2 linked regions of the Homo sapiens genome follow. The protein of the gene in region 1 purifies or fractionates together with the protein of each later gene. This does not show direct contact. Each region holds a gene or a part of one and is shown in the gene's direction. Other genes may lie near its edges.

What was found. The genes of interacting proteins can lie anywhere in the genome.
Region 2: the proteins of UPP2 (region 1) and CCZ1B purify together in Homo sapiens (co-immunoprecipitation; one large-scale study listed by IntAct). This does not show direct contact.

Annotation. Positions count from the first base shown.
Region 1 is NC_000002.12:158,111,671-158,115,696, forward strand, and holds part of UPP2 (uridine phosphorylase 2), read left to right. Parts: intron 1-3,430; coding exon 3,431-3,589; intron 3,590-4,026. UniProt on the Homo sapiens protein: Catalyzes the reversible phosphorylytic cleavage of uridine to uracil and ribose-1-phosphate which can then be utilized as carbon and energy sources or in the rescue of pyrimidine bases for nucleotide synthesis.
Region 2 is NC_000007.14:6,805,776-6,809,275, reverse strand, and holds part of CCZ1B (vacuolar fusion protein CCZ1 homolog B), read left to right. Parts: intron 1-3,238; coding exon 3,239-3,272; intron 3,273-3,500.

The DNA of each region.
Region 1 (4,026 bases):
TTGGGATAGTTGAACATTTTTTAAATATTCCATTTTTATTTATCTGTTATATTTTGACTATATCTCTTTGTTTTGTTTCAGTTTTGTTTCTCTGCTTATTTGTTTTAGTGGTTGCTCTAAGGATTACAGTAAACATATTTAATGTTTAAAAATCTACTTTTAATCAATGTTGTACGACTTGAAGTGGGACATATAGACCTTACAGGAATATACAGGAATCAAATAAACAAAAGAAGTGCAAACTTATACTCTGAAAACAACAAGCATTATTGAAAGAAATTTTGAAAGCTCTAAGTAAATGGGAAGACATCCTATGCTTATGGATTGCAAGATTTAATATTGTTAAGATAACTATACTACCAAAAATATTCTACAGATTCAATGCAGTCCCCATTAAAATTCCAGTTGCCTATTTTGCAGAACTTGACAAGCTTCTAATAAAATCCACGTCAAAATGCCTGGAATGCAGGATAGCCAAAATAGTTTTTACAAAGGAGAAAAAAGTTGGAGGACTCGCACTTCCCAACTTCAAAACTTATTACAAAGTTATAATGATAAAGACAGTGTGGTACTAACATATGGATAGACATAAAGATCACTAGAACAGAACCAAGAGACCAGAAATAAACTCTCACCTTTATGTACAACTGATTTTCAACAAGCATGCTAAGACAATTTATTGTGAAAAGAATCATCTCTTCAAATGGTGCTGGGACAACTAGATATCCACATGCTAAAGAATAAAGTTAGATCCCTATCTCACACCATATTCAAAAATTAACTCAAAATGGATGAAAGACCTAAATGTAAGGCTTAATTCTATAAAATGTTAGAAGAAAACATAGACATAAATCTTTGTGACCTTGGATTAGGAAATGATTTCTTATGTAAGATACCAAAACACAAGCAATAAAATAAAAATAAATAAATTGAACTCTAAAAAAAAAAGGAAGTTATCTATTCAAAATCAACATCTAAATATGTCTTTTATAAAATCACTAACTGGTATCCTCTAATCTCTCACTAGAAATTTTAGTAATATGCAATGCATTTTGAATGTATTTATATTCCCTTGTTAACACAGAAAATGCATAAAATGCAATAGACCAGATTAATACAACATGGCATAGTTAAGCCTTTTAAGATGCTAGGGATATCTAAAGCTGAGTTTTTTTCTGGCAATCATTAGGCAAAATCCTTAACATATTTTTGTAATGCCTCTGACTCCTTCCCAGTGTGTTTCTAACTTCTTTGATAAAACCAGGACAATTGATCATTTTGTTTGAGACATAAACACAGTAAGTGTCACTTAAGGTCAATGTTGGTTGGTGGTCTTCAGCCATATTTTACTTCTCATTAAAGCAGCCAGACCGAAAATTGTGTCCAGAGGTGGTGTTTAGTGAGTCTGGTTTAGGAGTAAGGAAGGCTTTAAGAACCAAGCTGCTTCTGTCTGTGCATATGATCTTTATGTCTCCAGAAATATTCAGAAATTCCTGTCGATTATAGCAATATCTACAGTTCAAAGGAGAATTCAAACCACAAGCTATTCTAACATCTGTTTTGGTTTTATGGTCAATCTGAATAGTTGTAATTTACATTCACTGGCACCACACAATGAGGTTATTTTCAAACTACCGTACTGTGTTAAAAAATTTCCTTGGACTTAGATCGTGAGCCAAGTCTTAACTATCCATACCAACAAAGAAGAAAATTCTAAGAATTATCAATAACTAGTTTAAAACTCACCTGAAACCATGGTCTTAACCTCTTTGCTACCAGTCTTTATGGCAGACTTCTATTGCAGTTCATTACTAGCTTAAGGCTTCATCAGAGAAACTCATAAGAAGGCAGAGAAAAGACAATATTAAGGGTAGAAGAGAAGCAGAGGGCGTGGATACAGGGTTAATTACACCCCTAATTGAGAAAGAGAATAGCTCAGGAATTATTGCTAAATGGAAACAAGATGCATCATGTACTCAGACCACCCAATAGTTAGAGTAAATCATTTGTGAATGGGGCCGCCTATTCTATAACCTCAGTTAGGTATTTCGTTAGACAGATATTCTTTATCCCTGTGATGGACCTTGTCAGCCCTCCCAGTCCTCTGTCCAATGCTGCCTACATCAGCCAGATACCACCAACTGCCTTTTCCTCACTAGAGGACTCAAACCAGCTTCCTGTGTACTAAATTCTGCAATACAGGAAAAGTAACAAGCTCAGAAGCAGGAATAGAAAATTGCTACATGATATAAAAAATAATGGTTACCATTTGCACATCACTGAGAACGTGTCTGGACTTGTGCAATGTCCTTTGCCATATGCAATCTCACGTTCTTCTTTCAAAACTCTCTGAGAGGTACTGTGTTTTTCCTATTTTGGAGATGTTCTGAGGCACATCGATTATTTGTGTGACACTGAGCAAGTTTCTTACTCACTGATGGGGTTGGAGTTCAAAGCCAGGTTTACCTAACCTCAAAGGGCAGACCCTCCACTATGTTGTCTTCTCTCTCTCTGCATTTTCCTCACCACTTACTTCAGAATCCGGGAGGACTTGACTCTTGCCACCTTGCTGTGGCCTGTGCTTCCTCCTGGGTGTGAGAGTCTGCTACTGCTCACCCTCTTGTTGCTGACCCGTAGTGCTTCTCTGCTCCTCTCCCTGGCGTCCACCTCTCCCACTCCTGGTACCTGGGGCTAGGGTACCCCTAAACAGACTGTTGTATGAGTAACTGCCAGACAATTGTATTACCATCTTCTATTAGACACCGTTGACTGCAACACCTATCCTAATTTCAGAGAAGGTAAAATGTGAATAAAACAAAAACAAAAATAAATCACTGGAATTGATGAAATGCCACAGGGAGATCCCACATTTACAATAATAAGGCTTGTTCCATGAGAATTTCTTCTGAATAAGAAATTTAAAAGTCTTGACATGATTCCTTTAAAATTTTAAGTTCACATACTCCATTTCACAATACAAATTTATGATGGGGGATGGGGAATCAGAAAACATACCTAAAACTGGTGGTTCTCCTTTTGCTCTTACATCACTCACGTGCCGTGGCCTCAGAACTTACATCCTAAGCATATGTCATGGTAATGCTCAACAATAGGCTGTCTATGTCAATTTAAGATGCTGGTTGGTGTTCACTATAAACAAAAACACCAGGAAACACCTCCTTGAATAATATCAACATTTATTTTGATTTTGTGATTTTCTTTACAAATTTAGTGCAAAAAACTTTGCATCTGTTGCTTTATTTACAGGTTGATGATGCAAATTAGCTAATTCATGGAACATAAACCATGACATCTACACGTGTTCTTAAGTAAATTAACTAAAAAGTAAAATAAAAACATTAGAGTTGAAACTGACCCGTGGTTCTTATCCCAGTTACTATGGCAGGCCCTTGTTTATTTTTATTAACAGTTTGTCTGTGTCGGTGGGAGCCCCAACAGAATGAAAGCATTTGCACTGTTTATGCACAAGGAGCTCGGGTTTGAGGAAGCTGAAGAAGACATAAAAGACATCTGTGCTGGGACAGACAGATACTGTATGTACAAAACCGGGCCTGTGCTCGCCATCAGTGTAAGTATCCATGGTTGCATTTCAGCTAGTCATTGCAGGCTAGAGAAAAAAGTGGGAACTTTTACATGTAGGAGTTCTTTTTCCCTCCAGCTTCGCATTCTTACACAATCAAACAAGGTGTCCAGGTATGAGTTCATTATTGGAAAAAGCCCCCAGGGCAGAACACAGCATGCAGCATCATTTTTGTTTATTAGTTACCACTTAGGTATTCAAATTAGGGGGAAAATACTCAAAGCACCCCTCCTTTCTCTTTACTTTGTAACTGGTTAACACCCCTCACCCCCGCCACGGCAATTTTCCTTCTTCTATCCCTTACCCAGCTTTGGGAATGTTGAGCTTTTAGTACACAGAGGCTAATTTTCAGGACTGCTAAAGTGCTGCTGTTTAACACCATAATAAGCTCGCTGAAAAGCTGCTAATGCATTTCTACTGAGCTC
Region 2 (3,500 bases), on another chromosome or scaffold:
TCTCCAAGACCATCCTCACTTCTGACACCCACTGCGAGTTTGGGAGTCCCCGTGACCACCTTTAGGGTAAGAGTTCTCTAGAAGTACTACAGGACTCAGAAAAGGCTTTCTACAGCAGTACCCCCGAGCCAAAGGCCATGTGTTCCAAAACCCCCGGGAGGTGCCTGAAACCGGGGACAGTACCAAACCCTTCACTTGCTGTGTTTTTTCCTGTACATACATGCCTGTGATAATGTTTATAAATTCAGTACAGTAAGCGATTAATAAGGCTGGGCGCAGTGGCTCACACCTGTAATCCCAGCACTTTGGGAGGCCGAGGCAGGCAGATCACTTGAGGCCAGGAACTTGAGACCAGCCTGGCCAGTGTGGTGAAACCCTGCCTCTACTATAGATAGAAAAATTAGCCAGGCATGGTGGCATGCACATGTAATCCAAGTTACTCAGGAGGCTGAGTCAGGAGAATCTCTTGAACCTGGGAGGCGGAGGTTGCAGTGAGCCAAGATCGTGCCACTGCACTCCAGCCTGGACAAGAGTGAGACCCCATCTCAAAACAAGTAATAGTAATCATAATTGGACGATGACACTCTACTGCAATAAAAGTCATGTGAATGCGGTTTGCTTCCCCCTTCCCTCAATATTTTATTATACTGTCCCTCACATAACAGAAACCATGGGAAACAAAACCAGGGGGAAGGAAGAATGGCGGCACTCACAGCTGCGGTTTATTACAGTGGAAGAATACAGGTTAAAATCAGCCCGGGGAAGAGGCGTGTGGGGCAGGGCCCAGGAGCCACCAATGGAAGGACCAGGAGTCCTTCTATTTGCTTTAGGTTGGTTTGGGTTGGTTTGGTTTTTTGGGTTTTTGTTTTGTTTTTTGTTTTTTTTTTTTTTGGTTTTTTGGTTTTTGAGATGGAGTCCCACTCTGGTGTGAGCTTCCGGCTGTCCTCTCCCGTTGGGGTCATGTGGACAGCCCAGTGAGTGTTTCCCCATCGAGGATGTGTGGCTGTGTCTGTGGAGTGTTGACATCCAGGGAAGCTCACCTGAGCCTCGAGATCCAGAGATCTGATTGGGGGTTGGCCACAGAGACACAGCTGGCCCCACATGGCCAGCCTTAGTCTCCAGCCCTCCAGAGGTGGAGCGGGTGCTGTGCGGGCTTGGGTGTAAGGGATATTGGCCTGTAGTTTTGTTTTCTTGTGATATCTTTGGGCAATGCTGGCTTGATAAAATGTGTTGGGAAATGTTCCCTCCTATTTTTTTGGAAGACAGTGAAAAATTGGTGTTAATTCCTCTTTACATGTTTCATAGAATTCACAGTCAAGCTCTCTGCACCTGGGCTTTTCTTTGTGGCAAATTTTAAAGTTAACCATTTATGCCCAGTGTTCCATTATTGGAACACTAAGCTTGTGAGAGTTATTTATATCCTGCTGAAGGTCATTGCCAAGGTCTCATTTTTCACAAAAAAGATTTACAACCTCCAGCATAAATGGGTTAATCTCTGTACTTGTTACAGGTTTATTTTGATTTTGTTTCTTCTTGAGTCAGCTTTGGTAGTTTGTGTCTTTCTAGGAATTTGTCAGCTTCAATTAATTTATTTGATTTGTCGGCACGTGGTTTTTCATGGTATTGTAGGTAAAGCCGGATACTCCTTCGTTTTTCCTGTAAAGTCAGTAGTGATGTCTCCTCTTTCATTCCTGGTTTTAGTAATTTGAGTCTTCTCTCTTTGTTTCTTGTTGTATAGTCTAGCTAAAGGTTCTTCATACTTCTGGAATCTTCACAAGAAAAAGGAAAAGTTTTTCAATGTTGGGTCTTTTCAGAGAACAACTTTTGGTTTCATTTATTATCTCTGTGATTTTTCTCTGTTGAGTTTGTTTCTGCTCTCATGCTTTATTATTTCCTTCCATTTGCTTTAGGTTTGTTTGGGTTTTTTTGTTTTTGTTTTTGTTTTTTTTGAGACGGAGTCCTGCTCTGTCACCCAGGCTGGAGTGCAGTGGCACAGTCTCAGCTCACTGCAACCTCTGCCTCCCAGGTTCACATGATTCTCTTGCCGCAGCCTCCTGAGTAGCTGGGATTATAGGCGCACCACCACGCCCGGCTAATTTTTTTGTACTTTTAGTAGAGATGGGGTTTTGCCATGTTAGCCAGGCTGGTCTCAAACTCCTGACCTCAGGTGATCCGCCCACCTCGGCCTCCCAAAGTGCTGGGCTTACAGGTATGAGCCACCACACCCGGCCCCACTTGCTTTAGGTTTAGTTGACTCCTGTTGTCCAGGATCTTAAGACGAAAGGTCAGGTCACTGATTTGAGATCTTTCTTCTCTTGAGACAGGATCTCGCTCTCGGAAGTGGGAAGAGGTACTGGGGCAGGTGGGAATGTGAGTTCAGGAGCGGAGGCTGTGGCTGGTGGAAGGCGGCCAGCGGAGGAAATAGAATGCTATAAACCATAGAGGAGGAGGGGGAAGGCAGACGAGGGGTCACACCTGTCATGACATGAGCAGGAAGTCAGTACGATGCCCAAAGAGGATACGTTGAAGAGTTAGGATAACGCTGTTGTCTAATGACAGTGTAAAGTGGTTGCCGGGGAGGAGGGTCAGAGAACGAAATCTGTGGCTTTCATCATCAGGCCTGGTGTTCTGCTCAGCCTCTCTTAACCATACATTGCTTTGATAACTTTTAAACATTTTTGGTTATCTGTGGTCCTGGTTGTTGTCGGTTGCTAGGTCTAATGTCATAACTGTAATTACTTGCTATAATAAAGTGAGACAGGATGATATCCATTTGCTGTCTTTGTAAACGTGTGTCAATGGAAATCGTCACAGAATAATGGACAGTTTCTGCCAATTCTCTATTCTCTCTGGACTATACACAGAGAGATTAGAACAGTGAACCCCTAAGTCCCCATCACACAAGTGAATAAGATTCTGGTCTTCGTTGCTTCTCCATGTTGTGTTGTCGGGTTTGCAAGAGCATTTTAAGTCATCACGTCAGTCACGAACACTTCCCTGTGCCTCTCTGATGAGGACATCCGTGGTAACCTCCCCACTGGCGCTGTCACACCTGACAAGGTCAACAGCACTCCCCTCGCATCATGGAATGGGCAGTCTGTGTCCAGATGGCTCTAGTTGACCAAAAAGCAGCTTCTTACAGTTGACTTCTCCCCATTGACTTTGAACAGATTGTTATTATACGAAAGTCTCCTTTTTTCCACCATTTCATAACCTCTGGTTTGTTCTGTCTTCCCAGGCCATGAGTGCGGCTGTGTGCTTTATGATCGACGGTGGGTACGCGCCTTTGTCTGATTTCAGCCTAAGCTTTTTGTACTTTGCTGCATCCTATTCTTAAGTGATAAATATGTTTTGGGGGTTTCGGTTGTTTGGGGTTTTTTTGTTGGAGACGGGGTTTCACTCTTGGAGTGCAGTGGCATGATCATAGCTCACTGTAGCCTCGACCTCCTGGGTTCAAGTGATCTTCCCACCTTGGCCTCCTAAGTCGCTGGGACTGCCAG